Linked DNA regions of Homo sapiens: all the other regions are linked to region 1. Evidence: fine-mapped expression QTL. A gene starts in region 1. Each other region holds a variant in brackets. All regions are shown on one strand. Distances are from middle to middle. Region 1 holds the start of SSBP2 (single stranded DNA binding protein 2). Region 2 overlaps SSBP2 (single stranded DNA binding protein 2). Region 3 overlaps SSBP2 (single stranded DNA binding protein 2).

Evidence for each region. PIP is the estimated chance that this variant, and not a neighbour inherited with it, causes the effect.
Region 2: its variant is fine-mapped to the expression of SSBP2 in tibial artery (GTEx, PIP 0.95).
Region 3: its variant is fine-mapped to the expression of SSBP2 in whole blood (TOPMed, PIP 0.97).

What each region holds. Positions count from the first base shown.
Region 1 is chr5:81,746,372-81,754,729 of GRCh38, forward strand. SSBP2 (single stranded DNA binding protein 2) reads right to left here and starts at 4,726. Exons shown (of 17, transcript NM_001256732.3): 1 at 4,610-4,726. The coding sequence starts at 4,671. RefSeq lists silencers at 3,588-3,747, 3,968-4,017, 4,458-4,507, 4,678-5,007, 5,278-5,627.
Region 2 is chr5:81,425,758-81,433,757 of GRCh38, forward strand. It overlaps SSBP2 (single stranded DNA binding protein 2), which reads right to left. Exons shown (of 17, transcript NM_001256732.3): 16 at 2,828-2,926. Among named protein-coding and RNA genes, the nearest start is that of ACOT12, 36 kb to the left of the region's middle. RefSeq lists an enhancer at 7,287-7,972. The variant T/C (reference allele first, on the strand shown) is at 4,064.
Region 3 is chr5:81,457,119-81,465,118 of GRCh38, forward strand. SSBP2 (single stranded DNA binding protein 2) reads right to left here. Exons shown (of 17, transcript NM_001256732.3): 10 at 3,937-3,985. Among named protein-coding and RNA genes, the nearest start is that of ACOT12, 67 kb to the left of the region's middle. The variant A/C (reference allele first, on the strand shown) is at 4,751.

The DNA of each region.
Region 1 (8,358 bases):
TAAGATACTCCTTCATTAGTTTTGGAAATCCTGAATTGTGCGAATTGCTGTCAAGTAAGTTTCTGAAGAGATCTCTATTACTTTTCTTGCCTTATTCCTTCAGAAAGAAAGAAAGGTTTGTCATTTTTCTTTGCAGGGGGTACCTTAATGATGGGGGAATGCTTTAATTACTTTAATGGTAGAAGGGGAGAACAAGGTGATGCTGGCAGATATTAATCCCTTTTATATGAAGTGGCATTTAAATGTTCATTATACTGTAACTACTTTGAAATAAGCATATGGTATTTGCTTCTTGGTATATTCAACTAACATTGAAAATTTAAAAGCCAAAGTTACTTTTCAGAGCTCAAGATTAGACAGTTTGATTCTTGTAGTTTCTGGCTAGTTTACTAAATAAAAGTCGGTATATATTATGTGTATCTTTTATGTTCAACTTTGCTTTCTAGCAGATTCATCTTTCTGTGCTTTACATAAAAGATCAAATTAGTTTAATAAAAAATTAATATCACTACTCATCTATTTGCAGGTGCCAGTTACTCTTTCTGCGGTAGTGTGGCATACTGTGTGGCTTTAAGTTCAGCAACATTTCATATAGGAATTGTTCACAACTATTATGTTTAACTTTAAAACAAGCAATCAAACAAAATTCCTGGGGGGGGGGGGAATCTGAAGAAACAAGTTTTCGTCATTATGTTAGGCTTCCAACTTTCCTAAAATTTCTGTGCCTTCTCCCACACCATACACAGATCTGCAAAGCATCAGGGTGCACCAGTGGTTAAGACTGCATATTTGATCAAATCTTTAAAGTCTGTCACATCTGATTATGTAATGCTGTTCCCTAAATCTGTAGCATCCTACCCTAGTTCAGGAAGACAATCTGGTACACTGAAAAATGTATCTTTCAGCTTCAATCACAGGTTCTAAAGTTAGAGAAATCTGTGTTAGAAACCCAGCTTTCCTGTTTTCTAGCATTGTATCCCTCGGTGAGTTCTTTAACCATTCAGGGTCTTAGTTTTCATATTTCTTTAATGGAGGAAAAAAAAAGCAACTGTCTTGTAGATTTGTTGGGAGAATTAAGAAAAAAATATACATAAAACACTGAACATAGTGACTGGCACACAGGATGGCAAATAAATAATAGTTATTTTTGTTGTATTGTTGTTTAGGGGTATTTCTGAAATACAACTAAGCTAGAGAATGTGAAACTCAAACTTACAAGTCCTTATTTTGGAGGTCACTGAAAAAAAATTTTTTTACATTGAAAAAATTCCTTTGAGTCTAACATCTTCAATAACAATAATTTATTGATGCTTTTGGTATTAGAAGGCACCTTAATGTTCAAGATACCTCAGAGAAGAAATTAGATTATCTCCTACCCTCAACAAACTTATATTTTAGGGAAAGTTAAACATTAAACAGCCAATCACGGTTATTTAATCACAATTGCGATTAGTGTTATAAAGAAAGCCTGCTAAAGGAAGAAATGACCTAACAAGATCAGAATTAAAATTTCTAAATCCCACCTCCCTCCAAGGGTTTTCAATCACTCCCTCTATAATTAAGACTTGATCTGCTTTTCTTAAAATGACAGAGTAAGTAACTAATCTTACCCTGATCATTTTTATCAGAACTGTATACTGAAATTACAGGAATTGTGTAAAACCAATAATTCACTTCAAATATTTCATATAGTGACTTCCTAATGAAAGACAAAACAAAGATCTAATACAGGTAAGCACTTGTCAACTATTCACCATGAACTCATGTTAGAAAACACATTTCTTGATTATAAAACCAATGTGCTTATTTCCTAAGCATGCTATTATTTATAATAATGACTCCTTTTGCAGAATGTTTTTGTTAAAATGAGTATTTGTTACAGAAACAAATTATTTCTGTGATTTTTAAGATAAGAACAGTTCTAATTTGCTTACTAAAGGAGAATTCTTCACCTTTTATAATCTGTTACCTTAAAAATTAAGAACAAAAATCTGGTGACATCCATTTTAATGATGACTTCAAGATTCCTACCTTCAGATGTTAGTACATTGTTGCAGAATAGTGCCATTAAAGTCCCAAGTAAACATAAAGAGAAAAACCGAGAGATTAGATCAACTCTCCCACCAAGATGAAATTAAGTTTATTCTATAAGACAGAACCTACGTCGATGTTTGTCTTAGATTCAAACAACATTAACCTAGAAATTAATGCAACGACAATTAACCCAGAACAGTCATTGTCAATTCTCCAAAAGCGGCCTCTTCACCTATATTTAAGTTCATAAGGCAAACCAGTCAAGAATTCCTGCTGCCAATTGAAATGAATGGAAGAAATATATTTAAATCAAATAGCACCATCTAGCAGAACCCTGATCTGCTCACGAGAGTAGATATTACTTGGTGTTCAGTTTGGTAGATTTGACAGCAAAGTGGCAATTATTTGTTTTCCTGGTGGGAAATCACAGAATTAGAGCTAGAAAGGACCACAGTTATGCAAGTTCCAACATCCTTGTTATTATCTGAGAAACTAAAAAAAAAAATCAAGCAGTCCTCAGGATACTGAGTGGGATTCAACTAAAGTTCACCCCTTCCTGGAAGTTCACCTAAAATCTAAAATTACTTTGATTCTCAAATTCAGTCACCCCCAAAATAAGATCATGCCTCAATACATTTCAATCACTCTGACTAATGTGAAATTCAAATATTCTGTGATCATTAAAACATCCTCCTTCAGATGTTTTTATCAGGCACATTATAACAAAATGATTAATGCACACAAATGAGACTGCATTTCAAAACTTCAATTCTAGTAACTGCCGTTTCTTAACCAGGCTATAACGCTATGTCTTTTATATACTACTTGTCACAGCAACAAGATCCTGAATGCAGCTCAGAAAATATCTCTTGCAAAAAAACAAAAAAGCCTCTCTAATTTTTGTTTTGTTTTGTTTTGCTTTGCTACATCAAGGCCTGATACCTCTAAATCCTATGGGAATTGAGTGTGTTGCTGCCAACACAAAGATTAGGAAATGTTCCCATCCCTAGGGCACACAAAACTTTCAGGGGGAGACTAACTGCCTAAACCAAGGAGGGAAACTCAGTCGCCTGCGCATTCGGTTTTTATTTACGCAGCTATTTCTGTGCGCAAGGTAACCAAAGTACCTTTGAGAGATGCTCTCAGACTTTTTCTCTGGTCTGAACCCCCTCAGAAAGACAGGGTGCGTTCAACGACAAGGATAACTCTGACCCTCAGAGTTTAAGTGGTTACTGGGAATCACTGATCTGTTGCACAGTTTAAAAAAAAAAGGGGGGGGTTCTTCCTCAGTGATCACAGTCACTATTCGTTCTCATTTTTAGTAACAACCAAATCACCGTTACAAGTACACAAGAATAGCAGCAAACCGCTTTGCTTTGCAGTGTGCCGTGACAGTGGCATCCCGGGCCGGGAGGGGCTCTGTTCTCGCCAGCCGCCTCTTGGGCTCCCACCGAAGTTAACACCTGTATCTCCCCACAACTGTAACCAAGCGGCTCCTTCCCACCTGAACGCTTCTCCCCTCCCACAAACCCCTTTTCGGACCACTGGCCCTCCCCGCCACAGCTGCCCTCCTCGGGCGCCCCCGGCGGCTCCCACAACTCCCCTCCGCGCGCCCCCGACCACCGCCCCGCCGGGCCCGCCCCTCCCGCCGCTCGGGGGCTGCCAGCCTCACAAAAAGTTCGCCAGCCGCCGCCGCGGAGTTGGGTCCGCTGCGAGAGGCAGAAACGCCAGCCTCCTCCAGCGGATCCCGCTCCTCGCCAACACACTTTAGCTCCCCGGGAACTCGGTCCCTCTCCGACTCCCAAACTTCGGCGGCGTCTCCGGCGCCCACCCGCCCCCGCCCCCGCCCCAGCCCCAGCCCCAGCCCCGCGATGCGCGGGGGACTGCGGGCGCCGCGTCCGTAGCTGGCCCAGGAAAGCCCGGACGCCCAACCCGCACACGCCCTCCGCGCCCCGCGCGCGTCTCCGCGCCCCGCGGGGCCCCGCTCGGCCGCTCCACGCCCGGCTTCCGCCCGCCGCGCGCCCGGCACCGCCGCCCTCGCCTCGCCTCGCCCCGCGCTCGCGGCCCTAAGCCCCAGCGCCCAGGCCCCCGCCGCCGCGCTCCCCGCGCTGCCCGCCCCGACCCCGGCCCCGACCCCGGCCGGCCCGCCAAACACCCACATTCCCACTGCGCGCCTTCCTCCACGCAGCTGCCCCTCCCGCCACCCCCGGCGGCTCCCCAGGTCCCCGGAGCCCCGGACCCCAGCTCTAAAGTTACTTTGGAAGGTGAACCCGCGGGTTATTTCCCTCAATCACCCAAACAAGTTTCCATCCTCGCCACCAGCACCACCGCCGCCCCTCAACACACCCGGTCCCTCCCGCCGACAGCCCCCTGCGGCCGCCCGCCCAGCGCCCGCACCTCCCGGGAAAGCGCAGCTCCCCGCACCACACGCCCCCATCGCGGCACCCCTCCCCCTGCCAGCCCACCCCCGGCGCTCCCCGGGCGGAGAGTGTCTGTGTCTCCCAGAGTGTGCGAGTGCGTGCGTGAGTGTGCGCGCGTGTGAAGGCGGAGGTGGGTGAGAAGCGGAGACACTTACTTCTCCCGGGCCTGGCTGTCGGACGGGACGGCGCTGCTGTTACTCTTGCCTTTGCCGTACATGCTTGTGCCGAGAGCAGCTCCCACTGTCACGCACCTGTCAACCCATCACAGCCTCCCCGGGAACAGCCCCGTCCCCATGGCGACCCACGCAGCCACCCCCACTATTGGCCGCCCCACGCCAAAGCTCCGCCCCCTTCGCCCAGGCAACGCGCGAGACTGACAGGCCTCCCCCTCCCTCTGGCCTTCCGAAGCGCGCGGTGGCGGCTAAGCCTCAGCGGCAGTCTCCTCCCTCCTTCCCTCCCTCCCCGACTCCCTCCCTCCCGCCTTCCCTCTCCGCTCTCCTCCCTCCACCCGCTCTCCTTCCCCCTCCCCCCTCCGAACCCGGGCGCAAGGGGGGAATTAGAAACTGCTCTAGAAGGATTTTAAACAACTGGCTGTTCTCTCCGCCGCCACCCCTCCCCCCGCGCCGCCCGCGCTCAGCTCCTCACTGGAGAGAAGGCGCCGGGAGGAGGAGAAACTGCGGCCTGGAGTCTCCGGCCGGAGCCGGCGGAGCTGGAGCCGTGGCGGCCCCAGACTTCGGGGCGCCCGCCGAGTCCACGACAGAGCCACGGCCTCAGCCGCCCTGGGGCCCCCACCAGCCCCTCTCCCGCTCCTCTCCTATGCGTGACCCCGCGCCGGTACCCACGATTGATTTTTGCGGTCCTCAGCCCTACTCCCTGGGGTGTCGCCCCCGCCCTGTTCCCAGAGGGCCGGCTGGCGAGGGACACCCGCGCGGTTCCCTCGACCTTCTGGCTGAGCGACCGACAGCGACTCGCCTTCTCTCCTGGGGAAAGGCTGCACCTCCGGCCCTCGGCGCCGCTGCGGTGGCGGCGCCCGGGGCCGCGCCCTGCGCCCCAGGGGAGCACCCGGCCTGGGGTCGGCCTCCTCTGTAAGAGGTGAGCGGACCTCCCGAGGAGGCCCGGTGACTCCTGCGGCCGCAGCGGCCCCTGCCCCAACCCCTTCTTGCACGGAGCCCCGCGGCGCCCTGGACACCCCGCCAGATCTGCCGCAGAAGAGGGCCCCAGGCTTCCCCACCCGGCCTGGTTTAACAGTTTGGGTCAGTGATGCCTATTCATCCTGACCCCTGGAGTGGAAAAGGCCAGAAAAGGTCTTGAAAGACTTCCCTGTCCTTGCCCGTTAGAATAGGCCCCAGCGCGCTCCAAGGTGTACAAAGCTGTGCCAGGGCTGAAAGGCTGCCCGAGAATGTTTCTGTATCCAAATCCCTAATCCCATTTCAGTAAACGCGCAAAAGTTTCAGAAACACACACAATCTGGTTCCCAGTAGAACTCTGCATCATTTATCTTATTGAAGTCCTTGACTGTAAAATCAGACGGGTGCAAATGGGGTTAGAAAGAAGATGGGCTTCACACGGGGAAGAAGGGGACAGATGGGGTGGGACAGGGCGACATCTGGAAAGGATGAATAGACAAGAAGTAGCTATGGGAGGAGAGGGAAATCGGATTCGCGTGGAGGAAGGTACCGTTCTATTCCACACACACACAGCTTTAAGCATTTAGTAGGAGGATCATAAAATGCATATGGAGATATACAGATAGATGGAAAGGAAAGAAATGGGTGTGAGCATTGACAGAAGTGATAGGAATAAAACATCAACAGATGATTAAGGAAGGGCAGTTAGCAAAAGTGAGAGGTCGAGAATCAAAAACGCGGTTGGCAACCAGACATAAAGACGGGAAAATGAAGAGGAAGGACTTTCTATACTGGTGTTAATGACAAGGAAAAAAACATGAGGAAAGTGAGGTATAAAAAGATGAGAAGACTAGAAGATACAGGATTAAATGAAGAAGCCATAGAGTGTGATAGCAAAAGATTAAAAGTAATAGAGGACAGACATTATCGTTAAAAAAAAGATATAAGAAAAAAAGCACTTTTATTAAAAGGACAAAAATTAAGCCAATAAAGGAAATGAGGGGGGAAAAGTGGGGGAAAAAAATACACTGGCTTAAGTAGATTAATTTCCAAGAGATGTAATTTGCCATTTCTGACTTAAGAATTCTTCTGTCAGTTTCTAATGACCTACAGTTATTGGGTGGTTAGGATATGGCATTCATATTCTTCTTTTTGTTTCTAATGACCTGCAATGATTGGGTGATTGAAGCGAAGCTGAGCCAGTCAGCCTCTCTTAATGAACTTTTGCTCAAAATGCTCAAATGTGTATAAGGTTGCCACAGTTTACAGACTCAACTTCAAGGTTAGCATTATGTAATTTTTTTGTTCAATTATCTACTTCCATTGGCCTTAACCCAGAAAATTTTTAGTATATCAAGGCTCCATCTCTTATAGAATACTCCCTATAAAGGTGCTGCTCAGAGAATGCTGTCAGTTCTCAGAGAGCTCTGGCAGCTTCTCAGACACCCTCCTGCCTGCCCCTGGAAAAACGAACCAAGGGTGGGCTTTGTCCTACTATCCAAAAACAAAGTAGGTATTATCCTTGCACTGGTGTTGGGACTCTCTTAACTATGGTTCTCAATCATGGCACGTTAGAATTGCCTTTATTTTCATTGTTGTTGGGTTTTGTTTGTTTGTTTATATACTAACTGGATCAGAAACCTTGGGGATGGACCCAGGTACCTGCATTTTTTTCATAAGCTCCACGTGGTTCTTGTGTATAACCAGGGCTGCCTGCCTTTGCTCTTCAGTATCCATTTAAAGACAGCCAATGGGTACCATAAGAGATTAGTACAAGACTTTTAGGTTGGGCTGTCCATTAACAAATGACCCTACTCAAAGCATTAAGATGTCTTTACAGTGTACTTTACTTTCTGCCACCAAGCCAACAAACTTGTTAATAGGACAAAAATGTATGCCCATATGTGTTCTCATAGTACAAGATCATGAATAGCCATGGTTTAATTTGCTATTTCCTATAGAGAAAGGAAAATGAAGAAAGAGAACAGGAGAAACTGTTTGCTGTCTACTGCTATAATTTATTCATTTGATTGGTTTTTACCCAGATTTGTTACATTTGGAAGTCCTATGGGTAATGGCATATTTTCTGATGTTTAAAAAATAAATAAATTATAGATCTGCACAGTGGGGTATGGAATTTAGAACAATTTGGTCTTAGTCTTTGGAAAGAATAAAATGCTAAAAGGTCTTAGTTCAGAACTTGCGAAGTTAATGTCAGAGTTACCTTTATAAGAATGTTCTCATCTGACAAATATACAAAGTGAAAACATGACTTTTATATGTATATGTATCCTGTATATAGTAACCTTAAAGCTTAAGTAATCAAATCAATTATCATTAAAACAGCTCAGCAGCTACCTGAACCATCTCTGTTTTATTTTCCTCTAAATGTTTTCACATGTAAATAAAATGCTTCTTTGCCCTTGTTCAAATTATGTTGAGTACAAAGAGTGTTCTTTGCATCAGCAACTGTATCTCCTGGGACCAATATTGTAATTAATGAGATTTGAAACACATATTCAGAGCCAAATTTGAGATCCCAGACACAAAAATGAAGATCCATTGTTTTGTTTTCATTTTTTAAAAAGGGAAAAGATTGGAGATTTAAAGCTTCCTAGTGTAGAGAATCACAATGTATTTTTAGAGTTTTTTTTTTAACCCACATATGAGATTGATGAATTTGGGGAGCCTGGATTTGGCATAGGGGAACCCTGACCAGCAATGTCACCAGAATGGAACATTTGGAATTGAGGTTGATTTTTTAAAAAAACTTTACT
Region 2 (8,000 bases), 320 kb before region 1:
GATTCGCATTTTGTTTTGTCAAGCATGTTGGCACCGCAAGGTTTATGACTTTGGGCTGGGCATTTTTGTTTCTATATTAATTGAATGAAGCAGCATGTGTGAGTGTGAAGAGACTAGGATAGTATCTAGTACATAAAGAGTACTCAATAGATACTTGCTCCCTTCCCAGGCCTCCTTCTGTGATTTAACTTCAAGATAAAACCTGACAGATCCTTAAAAGGCAGACTGCTCAAAAATATGTGCTTTCAGAGTTATGTGTATTAAACACTAGAACTTGCATGTTCATTTATTGAACAATGTTTTCTTTTTGAATTCATTAAGAGTTCTGCTTTTCCTTGATTATAGCAAAGCTAACTTATTGGGGATAACTAGCTTATTTACTTCTTCAAAGCCTTACATTTGTCAGCACCAAATCTCTTTTGTCTTTCTTCCTCTCTCCTCTTATTGCTTGATTTTATAAAAAGATCTAAACAAAAATGTATAGTAATATGACAAAGAAAGCCACACATAACAATGATATCATTCATAACAAGTCCCTTCTTCTCAGGAGACAGAAGAATGGAGAAGCCAGTGTGTACCTGCTTCCAAGGCTGTACTACCCTCCAGGGTGGTGGTGCAGTTTCTCAGTCCACCATCAAATTATTTTTCCTTTTACAACATTTCTGGTGGGGACAGGAGACAAGGAGGGAAGAGAAAGCAGGGAACTTCTGTTTGCTGTTAACTCTGCTGGCAGTCTAGCATTGAACCCGCTTAAGTTCAGGGGCAGGGAGGGTGAGCCAGAAGTTAGGGGTGGAAGAAGCCTTGTTCCAGCTGCTCTCGTTTCTAAATGCACATATTCACAGAAGAATCTGTTGTTTGCCATGTGCATAGTCCATTAGGGATTGAAGGGAGAAGCTGGGGCTTATTCTGTGCAAGGAAGTTCTCCACATCCTGGCATATCTGAATCTTTGCCCCAGTGAAGAGCTTTCTGATGCCAGTTCTGAATTGGTACCCCTCTTCCAACTGTTAAGACAGCAGTCACTAATGACAAATCTGGGAAGGAAGTAGAGGGAAGAGTTCCTCTTGTCACTGCCCATAAGTGAAAGTCATGTGGAAGCTTTTTAAAAAAGTTTTTTTCCAACTCCAAATTAATCATTTCCTCTGACTTTTAAAATACATGGCTTATATATACATTACAGCACTCATTAATCTGACACGTTTTAGTTATATCAACATCTGTTTTTCCTATTGGGTTGCACTCTTTGAAAGTAGGTGTTATATTTATTTCAGAATACCTTGGTCTTAACCTGATGCTTTGCATATAATAGGCTCAATAAATGTTAAACTGAATTGAATTATCAAATACCTCACTGAATTATACCACTTTATTGCTGGTAAAATTACTCGAAAAGGAAATAAATGTCTTTAATTAGATAAAAGTGAACATAGAAAAATTAATTTGTCCATAGTTTTGAAGCAAACCACTCAAAGAACCAGGATCTAAAAAATAATTCCCATAATCTTAAGCATTATGACTTAAATTATGTAGCTTCTCATGTTTTTCCTTAACACTGACAGGCTAAATTTTTTTTTCAACTGTAAACTGTTACACATAAAAAATTATTTGTCCTCACTAATCATATATTGCCTGCAAGTAAACTACAGATCAGCATAATTTTAACAGAAACGAACTCTAAAAACAGGGGATGTCTTGTCCCCTGCAAAGGTCCCATGTGGATATCAGAACTACAAGAATCCACAGAGCACTCAATCTTGTATTCTGTTTTGGGAATGGAACAGCCACTCTGTATAAAGGTAGACGTGCTATTAGCCAGTGCTTCAAATTCTGATGGTATCACCTCTGGTAAATGCTGAGTTGGGCAAAATGAGGGTAGTCTCTCTCATGATTCTGACTGCAGTTTGGTAGGTCCTCCGTAAGAAATTTTAAGGATGCTATGAATCCTGTGAAGATGAAATTCATTTGGGTTTTGAAATCTTTTATGCTACATTCCAGTTCAGTGGTTCTTAGCAGAGAATGTACACCAGCATCAGCAACAAAGCTTTTCCACATTCAAGTATGCCCAGCTCCACTCCTGGAAATTCTGATTCACTAAGTCTAGGGAGAGTTCTGGGAAACTGTATTTTAAAAAATTCCATTGGGGTTTCTAATGTGAAATATTAATGTAAAAAATCATTATATTACATAGAACTCCTTGAGAAAAGGCACCATTTTGTCTTTTTGGTCTCTCCAATACCTAGCATATTGCCTTGGCATGTGGTAAGTGCTCAGTAATTGCTTGTTAAATGAATGAATTTTATTGCTTCTCTTTTTGGTTCTGTCTACTTCTATGGAGATATGGAATGAACTTTTGTGTAACAGTACAATCACACGCAAGCAGTGACTTGGGTATTCAGCTCAGGTTAACAGACCGCCAATTTGGCCTTCAGTCCAGTGAGGTCTACTATATAAAGTAAGAACAGACTTTTTAGATTTTGAGGACAGCACTGAAACACACCTAGTTTTGCAGCAACCTGAGACATTTTAGTAGCATGAAAACTTATAAAAAGTATCAAATAGGCAACCTGTTTCCAGTTTGTTCCTTTACAGTGGAGGTTCTCAATGAGAAAACTATTATTATGGTTTTTCTAACTATGTACACAGAATAAAAAAGAAAAAGTTTGTTTTAAAAATTATTTTCAAAGATATTCCACTTAAAGTTTCTCTTATCTAAAAGATAAACCTGTTGAACTCTAGATAAACAGCAGTAAAAGTGGCTTTATGCATTTATTCTAGCAGAAGAGCTTCAGAAATAAAATTTGAGTATAATATAGTCAAGGGAATACTTACACTCTCACTCTGAAAAGGATTTAAGAAATTTCCCCCCATTTCGCCATCATCCCTTGGAGTGCCCGGTTGATTACTCAGGCTCATATTATTGGGAGAATTCTGTAAACAAGATTTAGAAAACAAGGCATTGTTGAAAATTTTAATTTCCCTCTTGCACTGTACTGTTTCGAATATTGAAACAGCATCCCTAAGGACAAAGCATACTTCTAATTTTAATCTTAGACTTCTACCATGTATTCTATTTCATTCTTTGCACTTTGACAAGTACTAATGCCTTCCCAAATGAAAATTTAAAAAAAAATAAAAAAACCCCCAATAACCTACCACAACTATTTTCTTAGCTTCAGAATCAATATTTATTCAATTTCCCACCCTCAGCTTATAGAGTTCCTAAAACACTGGAGAGTTTAAAACATTCCCAGCAGGGGCATGATGAAGAGATCCTACCCACTGATAAGGCAAGATGGAACAATAACTCCCTTAGTCATTTCACTAACCAAACTTTGAAAGGTCACTGTTTTAATAAACATTTCCTTTTAATTCTACATGCAGTATACAGATAACACTATTTCAACCATTTTTACATGAACTTTAAGGAAAAAAGAAAGATAGCTAACAACTGTACTTAAGAACAAGAGACACCTTAGGACTTGAGAATTTATTATGTACTCTTAGAGGAAAAGGAGGCTCAAAAGAAAACTGCTTTAGAATATTTTCCTATCATTAGTTTAAGAGTAGATTTACTTTGGAACTTTCCTTGGAAGATAAAATGACTGTTATTAGCAATCTAATCGAACACCAAGTTAGCAGTGCGTTGCTTCATATTCTATTTAAATTTGCTAGTCTCATTATTACCGCACAATTTTAGCCATGGCAGGATACCTGATACTCCACATCAATAGGAAATGTAGAATGACATTGGACTATAAACCATGTTTATACAGTAGTATAACTGTAATTCTTTGAAGGTCCAATTCATTAACTTGTAAAAAAAAACTTCAGAGTTAAACATTTTTTAGTTGTTATTTCAAATGGAAGAAATAACTTACTTACTTACTGGCTTACTTTTTCCTAAGCCATTCCTATTTACATTGTTTTGGAATTAGTTTTTAGATTTTTTTTTAAAGAAAATTGCTCAGAGAATTTTGTCTTAACTACAACAACTTGTATCATAAAAATTAACATTTCATGAATGAGTTATTCCCAGAAGAAAATGGTTAAAATGTAAAGCAGAGA[T/C]AGATAGATGAGCTGGTAGAAATACACTGTGTCTTGTCTTGCTGTGCACCCCGCAGGGAGGATCTGAGAACAAGGATCCTCTGAAGTCCATTGGAGCTCTCTGTGTCAAGAAACCCCAAGGACTTGGGAAATATACTTTAATAGCATAAAGAGGATTCTATTTTTTTTGACAAATTTTTCTCTGAAAAATGTTAGTTATCCAAGTATATAGAAAAGCAACTATACTTTGAAATGAATCTGAATATCTTGATTTCCTGGGAAAAAAATTAAGTAAAATTTAACTAACTGCATTATTTTAGAATTCATTAATTATTAAAGTTATTAGGTTAAATAAACTGTACCTTGAAAACAGGAATGATAATGCTGACTTAGCTCAAAAAGGAAAATGAATTTATAAAAAATATTGTAAGATTTACTTATAATTTATAAATTCTTTTGGATTTCTGTCACTTTATATATAATGGAGAAATTGGTAATACTAGAATAAAATACAATCTAATATATACACACATATATAAGAAAATTCAAGGATGCAGTTGGAAGCTGCATATTTCACACAGTCAAACAAAAGAGTAAAATGAACCCTCTTATTCTTGTGTAACATTCATACCCCCTGTGGTATATAAGGTACCATGAGAGAAGCAGCGTATCTCAGACTCAGTTAGGGTGCTTTAAATCTTTGCTGCACATTTGCCATATATCATTTCTTGATTTATAATTCTGAAAGTCTGGCTAACTTCAAACCTGATTCCTAACTCAAAATATTGATTTTTAAATACTTACAATTTGAAAGTAACATTGCATTGCTAATGTTTAAATACACACAAAATACTTCCAGTGTTATTATTTCTGTTTTACATGCAACCTCTTCATAGCATGGTGGCTCAGCATTATACTCTTCTGTGTGTGTGTGTATGTGTGGTGGGGACGGGTATTTAAGGACACTAACAGGAAGATTGAAAGGATACATTCAACATACAAAACTGAGATAAAATCAGATCTCTGAAACCTATTCCTATTCAGCCTACTGGACCGTATTTGAAAAGCCTGAAGTGATAGGACAATTGGGTTTTTTTGGTTTGTTTTTAACTAGAGTAATCTCTGCAAAATTGGAAAACAACAGAAGCTCCTCAATGGGAAATCTTAAGAAAATTGTGCTGTCCGTAATCGCTGAGTGACATGATGATATGGGCTAAAGGGCATATTCAATATTGGCATCTGAGGGACAGCTAAGATAGCGGTACCAAAAACCATCCCAGAACAGGTAATGAGGGTAGGTGGTAATGAATTGTGTGTATGCTTCATTTAACTGTAGCTGTATTTGTGTATTATGTCCAGTAGGTTTCATCAATAAGGCAAGAATATGATGTATAAAAAGGACTTAGGTTGGTCAAAAAGGCACTCTACTTGCTTCAGCACAAAAGAGTACAAGATTACTTTTAGATACATTAGGCCCATCGGTTACAGTTATTTCAATGAATATGTACTTTATTCCCTACTTTAAGAGTTTTGCTTGAAAAAATATGGTTAGGATTATACTGATACCAACTTCAAGAAATTTTATTACATTCTCACTTATCATTTCTTCAAGTTGGAAATTCTCTTAAGCTATGATGTCACACATGAATATTTATATACATATATATATACACACACACATATATGCACACACACATAATACACCACAAACACAATTTCCTCTGGCTGCCATGTTTAACCCTGTTGGACTTCCTGGTCTGATTTCTTCTAGCAGGTATTACATATCTTCTTCTCTCTTTTTTTTTTTGAGACATGGTATCTGTCACCTAGGCTGGAATACAGTGGTGAGATCACAGCTCATTGCAGCCTTGGACTCTTGGGCTCAAGTGATGCTTCTGCCAAAGCCTCCTGGGTAGCTAGGACTACAGATGTGTGCTACCACATCTGGCTAATTTTTAAAATGTTCTGCAGAGATGAGATCTCACTATGTTGCTCAGGCTGGTCATGAATTCCTGGACTCAAGCAATCCTCCTCACTTGGCCTCCCAAAGTGCTAGGATTACACGTGTGGACCACTGTGCCCAGCTCATATCTTCTCTTAATTAGTAAGTTATTATCCCTTCTCCCATCCTCAAAAATTGTTTCAAACCTTTTAAAACTTTTTAAAATTTTAAATTTTTCCATTTTCAAATTAAAAAAGTGAACATTTATAGAAACTGTGGCTCTGCCTGTAATTAGAATAAAATAATAATGACATTATTCTAAGTAGTGGATTTTGAATTGCTTTCTCACAGGCTGCCAATAGTGAGTTTTCTAGAGTGTTGTTTTGACTCTGCTAGCTCCCTCAAAGAACAAACTGTCAGTCATTCTCCCAGTGGGCACAAATGAGCTAGAACTCAGGTCAGCACACATGAGATGATGGTGTAGATCTCTAGTCATCTACCAGCTCCCTTGTGAATGGTGTAGGATCTCTAACTGGAGCCAAAATTCTTGGGGTCAGAATGCTTCAGGTTGAAAATACTTTCTTGGTAATTTATTAAACATGATATGATCAGAGCTTGTCTTCTCACATACATGTGTTTTTCAAACTCAGAAATATAAATGTGAGATATGTTAATACGAACTGCAGAATTTCCTTAGCTGCTTTTCTTCTAAGAAAACAAACCGGCCGGGCACGGTGGCTCATGCCTGTAATCCCAGCACTTTGGAAGGCACAGCCAGGCAGATCACGATGTCAGGAGTTTGAGACTAGCCTGGCCAGCCTGGTGAAACCCCTGTCTCTACTAAAAATACAAAAATTAGCCGGGTATGGTGGTGTGCGCCTGTAATCCCAGCTACTCGGGAGGCTGAGGCAGGAGAATTTCTTGAACCTGGGAGGTAGAGGTTGCAGCGAGCCAAGATTGTGCTACTGTACTCCAGCCTGGGCGACAGAGCGAGACTCTGAGTCCGGGAGGGAGGTGGGGGGGTCAGCCCCCGCCCGGCCAGCTGCCCCGTCCGGGAGGGAGGTGGGGGAGTCAGCCCCCCGCCCGGCCAGCCGCCCCGTCCGGGAGGTGAGGGGCGCCTCTGCCTGGCCACCCCTACTGGGAAGTGAGGAGCCCCTCTGCCCGGCCAGCCACCCCGTCCGGGAGGGAGGTGGGGGGGGTCAGCCCCCCGCCCAGCCAGCCGCCCCGTCCGGGAGGGAGGTGGGGGGGGTCAGACTCCCGCCCGGCCAGCCGCCCCTTCCGGGAGGTGAGGGGCGCCTCTGCCCGGCCGCCCCTACTGGGAAGTGAGGAGCCCCTCTGCCTGGCCACCACCCCGTCTGGGAGGTGTACCCAACAGCTCATTGAGAACGGGCCATGATGACAATGGCGGTTTTGTGGAATAGAAAAGGGGGAAAGGTGGGGAAAAGATTGAGAAATCGGATGGTTGCTGTGTCTGTGTGGAAAGAAGTAGACATGGGAGACTTTTCATTTTGTTCTATACTAAGAAAAATTCTTCTGCCTTGGGATCCTGTTGATCTATGACCTTACCCCCAACCCTGTGCTCTCTGAAACATGTGCGGTGTCCACTCAGGGTTAAATGGATTAAGGGCGGTGCAAGATGTGCTTTGTTAAACAGATGCTTGAAGGCAGCATGCTCGTTAAGAGTCATCACCACTCCTTAATCTCAAGTACCCAGGGACACAAACACTCTGCCTAGGAAAACCAGAGACCTTTGTTCACTTGTTTATCTGCTGACCTTCCCTCCTTCCCTCCACTATTGTCCTATGACCCTGCCAAATCCCCCTCCGCGAGAAACACCCAAGAATGATCAATAAAAAAAAAAAAAAAAAGAAAGAAAACAAACCATATACTTCTCTCTACCCTCAACCCCAACTCCAAGGAAAAGGATTTTTGTTTCATTGATTAAATGGGTGACCCCTCAGTTATTAAAGGGCTGAAAGGAATTTCATATATCATCTTTAAAAGCTTTCTAAATCA
Region 3 (8,000 bases), 290 kb before region 1:
GCTCCTTAAAGAAGTGGCTGTTTCCAGGGCTAAAACTGGGAAAATATAAGAAGAGCTTCAATGTGCTCAGAGAAAAATGGGGACATGTTAAAAGGTTAAGTGATCCCACTTAAAGGGGAAAACTTTGAACAATTTTAGCATCCTAAACCCACAGAATAAAATAATTCATGAATACATCGTATATACATAAATGAATATGAATGGAAAAGAAAAAACAACTCTGTTATAGTTAGCTAACTAATAAACGGAGAAGAAAAGACAGAATTCAAAAATATCCATTTGGCAACCAACAAAGTAAAAAAGTGTTTCAGGCAAGAATCATCAATAGATGTCCAAAATAGCAGATGAAAGTATAAGGAGGAAGAGGATACCTACTGTACATTCAAAGTAAGTCTCTAAGTTAATAAGTACAAGGGGAAAAATAGTTATTTTATACTGGAGAAACCTGACAAGCACCACCTTAACTAAATGATCAAAATTAACATCAACAATAATGGGACAAATCATCATGTGCCTCCTGAAATGATGCATTGAGAAAAACACAAAATTTTTTTTTTTTTGAGACCGAGTTTTACTCTTGTTGCCCAGGCTGGAGTGCAATGGCGCGATCTCGGCTCACTGCAACCTCCACCTCCTGGGTTCAAGTGATTCTCCTGCCCAGCTTCCTGAGTAGCTGGAATTATAGGCGCCTGCTACCACACCCGGCTAATTTTTCGTATTTTTAGTAGAGATGGGGTTTCACCATGTTGGCCAGGCTGGTCTTGAACTTCTGACCTCACGTGATCCACCTGCCTCGGCCTCCCAAAGTACAGGGATTACAGGTGTGAGCCACTGCACCCGGCCAAAAACCACAAAATTACTTCTGTAGTATCCCTGACAAATATATATAACCTAAATCTAATCAGAAGGAAATAGATAAAACCAAATTATATACATTCTAAATAATCTTGCTTGGAGTTTTTTAACTCCAAGGTTAAGAAAGGCCAAAACAAACAAACAACCTCCCGCTCCAAACAAAAACAAGCTGAGAAACTGTTCCAAGTTAAAGGAGACAAAGAGACACGAAGTGAATGTAACAAGTAAATTGGGATTTTCTTTTGTTTGAAAAGATTATTGAGCCAATTAGTGAAATCTGAATAAAATCTGTAGATTAGAAAATAGCATTACATCAGAATTGATTTCCTTATTTTGATCATTTTACTGGGGTTATAAAAAAATTATGTGTTAGTTTTTTAGGAAATATACATGCAAGTATTTAGGGATAAAGTTTCAGGAAATTTAAACAGTTTAAAAATACGTTTATGTAGAGAGAGGAAATAATAAAGCAAATGTGGTAAGACATTAACAATTGGGAATCTGGGTGAAGGGTGTATGGAAATTCTTTGTAGTATTCTTGCAATGTTTAACTCTGAAGTTATTCCAAAATAAACACTTGAAAGAAAAAATAGTAAACAAAACATATTTGAAAACAGCAAAAACAAAACAAACAACTACTTCAATATGCTGCCTTGAGGAGTCAGAGACTAACTGTATTGGTACGAACTGAAAAGTGTTTTAATATTAAATATGGGCAGGAAGTCTAAGAAACTTGGAATTCAACATAATTTGGATAAGTTGTCACCACAAAATGATCCATGGTTTTTGGGGAAAAATACCTCCTTAATACTTTTTGCTTCTGTTTCATAGAAGCCCTAGGTCTTTGCTAGAAAGTCGTCAGTTATCTATGATTTTTTTCCCCTTGTTCTTAGAGTGGTCATTTTCAGAGGCCTACTTTTCCTTTGGATGCTCAGGATGATGACTACTTTCTCTCTCTAAAGAGAGAATGATAGGCCTCCTCCACTTCTTTTCCCTATTCTCATACTTTGAGTAAGGGTAGATGTTTGCACATTTGGTATACATTCATCGAGGAGACTGCTTTCAACTCCATTACTTGCCTACATGTGTGCTAGTCAAATGCCCATTTCAGACTGGTGGACAGCAGTTTGATGTGTACAGCTTTTACCCTAATTCCTTATGTTTCTCAGGGTCTAAAATAATGCATAACTGCTAGTGTGTTATAGCGTATTCTCCTACCCACAGTGCCCAGCGCTATGAAATCCTAAAGAGATGGAGTACCTAAAAAACTAAAAGTCATCAGAACACAGAGCTCCCCTCTCATCTATACTGTTTACTTGGATAATATACCCCCTTGGTACAATGAAACATCCTTGTCAATATCAACCGCTCAAACCCTGTCCACCTTCCTAGGTGCCTTGTGGGAGATATAATCTTTGAATGAGTGTGTAAAAGAAGGTACTTATAAAGGTGGGTAGTGGTGGGTGTGAATTGTACTCTGGCTGCCTACAATGGCAGTAAAGGGATGACTGGCTGAGCTGACAATGAGGAATAAGAGAATGGTTTTTGTGCTTCTAGGTGGGAAGGTTTCCATAGTTAAGGTGAGCCATTGGTTGTGCTTTTCCATCTAGCTTCATGAGACATGCAGATAATGGAAATTCTTTCCAGATTCTGGCACTGGGAAGAGTTTTGTTACAAAAAATGTTTTCTTGCATTCTTTTTATGGGCATTTAAATAGGAAGTTAAAATAAATGTATCTTGACCTGCTAGACAGGTGTGATTTTAAAGTGAAATCTTGAATGAATTGGTTAGGTCAAATAGTAAGAAGCTAATAGATCATAAGAAGTAAACTCTTGTAAAGCATGTAAGCAAATGAAAATAATTTTGAGGGTGTAAAGGTACTCTATTCCAACACAATCTGGCAAAACACTATTTTAGGAGAAAGACTTGTTGAAATTAAATAACACACTGAAGACTCAAATGGAAGCAACATCATTCTTTTCACTTCAAATAATTTCAATTACTTAGCAAACATCGTAGCTATTAAAATTAAGAGAAAAGCAGATAACATGAATTAACATTTTAAAAAATATATGACAGTTATTTACTTGAGCTGAAAGTGATTCCTGCTTCAAAACAGCAATGGATTTAGGATGATTCTTCCTATACCCTAACCTTAAACACTGGATCGGTTTCATATTCATTTAACATTAAGGCCACTGCTAGCCAATGAAGATACCTTTGTACATATTAGCAAAAAGCATCCTCTTTGCGTAGATGCCCATTGACTTCACAAGGGGATCACAGGTTGTATTTCATTCTCCTACTGACTCTCTTGACCCGGGAACCTTTGTGCAGTGCACACAGTACACAGATGTACATGGCAGACTTCTCTCACATATCGAAGAACTCAAGGTTTCAAAGACAAGAAGGAAAAACATCTCCAGGATCACAACATTAAAATCATATTAAGATCGATAGCTTAATTTTCAACCTGTGCACATATTTCTGTGACATTATTAAGAGAGATAAATATTAGTGCCATCAAACCACGGCCACAAATATATAAGGAAAATTCCCAAGATGTCAGGTATATAGAGAGATGTACAAGGATGGCAATTTAGCTAACAGGTACAAGGTAAATATGCATTTGCTTTCTGGGGCAGCAAGAAAGCAAACCTAGATGTAATTGATATAGCAAATAAAATCATAATAATTTGGCTTCTTCTAACAGGTTGATTGTATTTGGCAACTCAGTGATTATTAATAGTTATTTTAGAAGATCAAACCATTTTATGATACAGATCACTATTTATAGGCTATTGTAGTATATACTTAAGTCACACTATTTCAATTTTTATTTTTGAAAGTCTTGTTGACAATAGAATGCATGTTTACATTAGACCTTGAAGTGAAAGAAAATTACATAATTTCAAAAAATTATGCATCTTTTTCTAAAATTTATATTAAACTTTTTGAATGATTACTTAAAAAAGGGTTACTACAACCAATTGCAAAGCTTTCAAAAGCAAAATGTTTTTGTGATTTTTGTTAAATGTTACAAAATGCAAAATATTAAAAAAAATATATATATATACTCACTGAATTGGCATTTGTTGGGTTTGGCCAAGGTCTACCACCACCTGGACCCCTACAAAACAATTTGATAAATGAAATTTTAACCTATGCTTTGAAGGTTTCACAATAATCAATGACAAATCATAAAATATAACATTTATAATTCAGTTACTATGCAGTTCTAGTTTGGCACTGAAATTACTCTCTTTATATTTATTTTAATAGCTTTTTATATTAATTAAGTCCCCCAAAAGAAAAGTTTTCTTCCCAAATTGAACTGCTTTTAGAAAGCCCAGTTTTATTTTAATATTAAATGGTTATTGTTATAAAGATGGTAACTGCTCATAGGAGTAAATATATACATACATTGAAATCATTATAAAACACACTTCTGTAGTGAAAAGTATTATGAACTAAATATAAACCATAACCTTGTGATATCAATATGAGCTTCCTGTATCTCATTCAAAATAAAATTTGTAAAACATCAATATATGTAAAATGATTGATCTTAAGCTATAAGCAAATAAAAATATATAAAAGGTATCTAAAGTTGCCTTTTAAAAAAAAACCACAGAGTATCACACATTACTTTTATATTTATTAATCTATCTTTCAATGCTACTGATGATTTAGTTACTATTAAATGAGAAATCCCATTTCTTGTTCTCATAATTTCAGTCCAGATAGTGGCCAGAGCAAATCTTAGAAAAAATGGGAGATAATCTATGCCAATATATTACTTCATTTTAGAGTAAAGGAGAATGTTCTGTATTCCACAGCTTCTAAGGACACTGAGTTTTTAAAGTAAAATTAATGCCCAATTAATTAAATCAAA[A/C]AGGTCTCTTGTCCTCATACTTTAGTACTAAATTGTGTACCTGAATAAAGACTGTCTTATGAAAAGCAGACTACTGTCAGTCGGTCTCCTCTAATTAGGGTCATTTAAAATTCCCCTTCATTTGAATCACTAAGACAATGAAAATTTTTAATTAAAAAAAATCCCTTGATTCTAAGACCTTAAACCTAAAATTCTAAATCAGGAGTGTCCAATCTTTTGGCTTCCTTGGGCCACACTGGAAGAAGAACTGTCTTGGGCTACACATAAAATACACTAACACTAACGATAGCTGATGAGCTAATAAAAAAAAAAGAATTACAAATAAAATCTCATAATGTTTTAAGAAAGTTTACAAATTTGTGTTGGGTCACATTCAAAGCCGTCCTGGGCCACATTTGGCCCACAGGCCACAGGTTGGACAAGCTAGTTCTAAATGTTAGATAAAGAGGCTGAGCAAGTTAGTTATGATATTACCCATGTTTGCATGGAATATTTAGAACAGTTTTTAGTTTTGTTTTGAGATTCCCTAGAGGTGTGAGCAGCAGGGAAGGGAATGAGTCCTGTCCCTGGGCTCTATTAGGAATGCCCAAGTGGAATTTTTTCCCAATTCAGCTTGAGGTATAGAAGATACCAGTGGGGACTTGATAAAATTTTGTGCATAGGGAGAAAGAAGGTGAGAGGCATTTGTATTGATTGTCTTTGGAAATTGTTGCCTCTCCAAGATGATGATGGAGATGATGATTTTACAATTAATTACTGGAACACTTCAGAAAAATGATTTTACCTATAGGATTCAGTGTCCTAATGGACAGAATCTAAGGTAAAACATAAGATATGTGTTGACCAAGTAAAACATTTGGGTAGTAAGGTACATCCACATGATTTGTTTGATGTTAAATAAAACACAGTAAAAAAACTTGGGAACATTTATCTTAAAATGACATAAAAGTACACCATATGCAGATCCTGGCAAAATTTATATATAATAATGTTATGTAGATAATCTTATAATTTTGAAATATCATAACCAAACAAGTACTGTATGAATAAGATGCATAAATAGAATAAACTATTTTTATTTTCAAATTTTTCTAATGTTAAACATGCTAACCTAAATGTTAAAATAATTAAATATTTAATTTAATTTAATTGCATTAAATTAAATGTTACATTTATGTCATAACATTATATATTTCAATTTGATAAATACCAATCTAGTTCCAACATACTAAGTGTTTCATAATAAATTTCATTTTACTATTAAGTATTAATAATTCATATGGATAAGTTAAATTTCTCCTAACATTACCATTGTGTTTGAAAATACTTTAAGTTTCACAAGTATTTTATAAAAAGTGAGGGTTATAGTAGGGAGTAGTTCTATTAGAACAACTAGTTAAGCTCAGTAATTCCCACTCCTTTTGAGGGCCCTCAGTATTATTAAGAAAGTAATTTACAAATTATAACATAGGAATTATTTTGAATGAAAATTTCTATATAAGTATGGTTTGAAGTAGAATCAGGTTAGCCTCATTTAAAAATGAAGAGAGGCTGGACATGATAGTTTATGCCTGTAATCCCAAAGCTTTGCGAGGCCGAGGCGGGGGGACCACTTGAGCTCAGGAGTTGAAGGCCATTCTGAGCAACATGTCGAAACCCCATCTACACAAAAAATACAAAAATTAGCCGGGCGTGGTGGCGCATGCCTGTGGTCCCAGCCACTTAGGAGGCTGAGGCAGGAGAATTGCTTGAACCGGAGAGGCAGAAGTTGCAGTGAGCCGAGATCATGCTACAGCACTCCAACCTGGGTGCAGAAGTCTGCATTTTTTGGTAAGGAGGTTGATTTTGATGAAATCAAATCAACCACTATTACCAAAGAGAAAAATCCTCTTTTTTTTTTTTTTTTTTTTTTTGGTTTGGGACACAGTCTTGCCCTGTCACCTAGGTTGGAGTGCAGTGACAGGATCCCAGCTCACTACAACCTCCACCTCCCGGGCTCAAGCCATTCTCGTGCCTCAGTCTCTCAAGAAGCTGGGATTACAGACACCTGTCAACATGCCCAGCTCATTTTTGTATTTTTAGTTTAGATGGGGTCTCCCTATGTTGCCCAGGCTGGTCTCAAACTCCTGACCTCAAGTGATCCGCCTGCCTTGACCTCCCAAAGTGCTGGGATTACAGGCATGAGCCACCATGCTTGGCCTGAAAAATCCTCTTTCTTCTGTAATTCACTATCATTTTATTTCAAAATAATAACTACACAAACTTCATAATTCTGCAGGATATAATACAGAATAAGAAGATCCTCTGAAATCCTTTTGGCCTCGTAGTATTGCTTAATAGTAATGTATACAAAGTTGAGTTAGGGGTGCTTTAATACTAAATCCTAAATTCTTTGGAAACTTATAAAAATGTATTTAATTTAGAAATACATGATTATTCAAATTTCCTTTAAACAGTAATCTACAATGCATTAGAAAATTATATTTTGGCCATAACTTATAAATGCTACTTTAAATTACTTAAATTTAGTTTTGGCTTCTAAGATACAATACTGGTTACAGAAACATAGAAAGTAAGTTTTTCAGTGACACAATATAATTTATCCTAAGTTTAGAGCATGAAAACAAAGTTTTTTAAACAATAAGGTTACCAAATTTACTTCCGAATGATTTATTCTGCAATAAAGAAATACAGTTGTCAGTTAGAATATAGTCTTTAATTACTTTAGTGACCAGGGTTGGGAATTTTTTATTGTCATCATACTCTCATGGCAAATAAGAAAAAATGACAAGCTAAAGAAAAATTATCCAGATATGAGTCTCTGGCATGCTCCTCCTAACACATAAATATTTTTGTTACTTAAATAGTTTAGTTAGTTCAAGACAGAGCGTAAGGTAACACCTTTCTAATGCCTTTTTCTTCCATTTTTAAGGAATATGCAAAATTCCTTAATGACATGAAGCTACAAATACGTTAGGAATACTGTGTGTATGCATTACAGTTAGACTTTGTTTTAAAGATAATACATTATAAAGTGAATTTCAATAAAGCTTACCCTATTGAGTGCAATGGAGATAATATGTTTCACTTTTTATGTCTCTAAACAAACCTTTGCTTTTTTGGGGCCAATATCAATATAATAGTTACACTCTTATAGAGCATTCATACCTGAGAAGTTTCCCTATTAGAGGAAAATATTTACAAGTGTAAAAATGTAAATATTTACATTTCATTGTCCTTGAAGGAATCC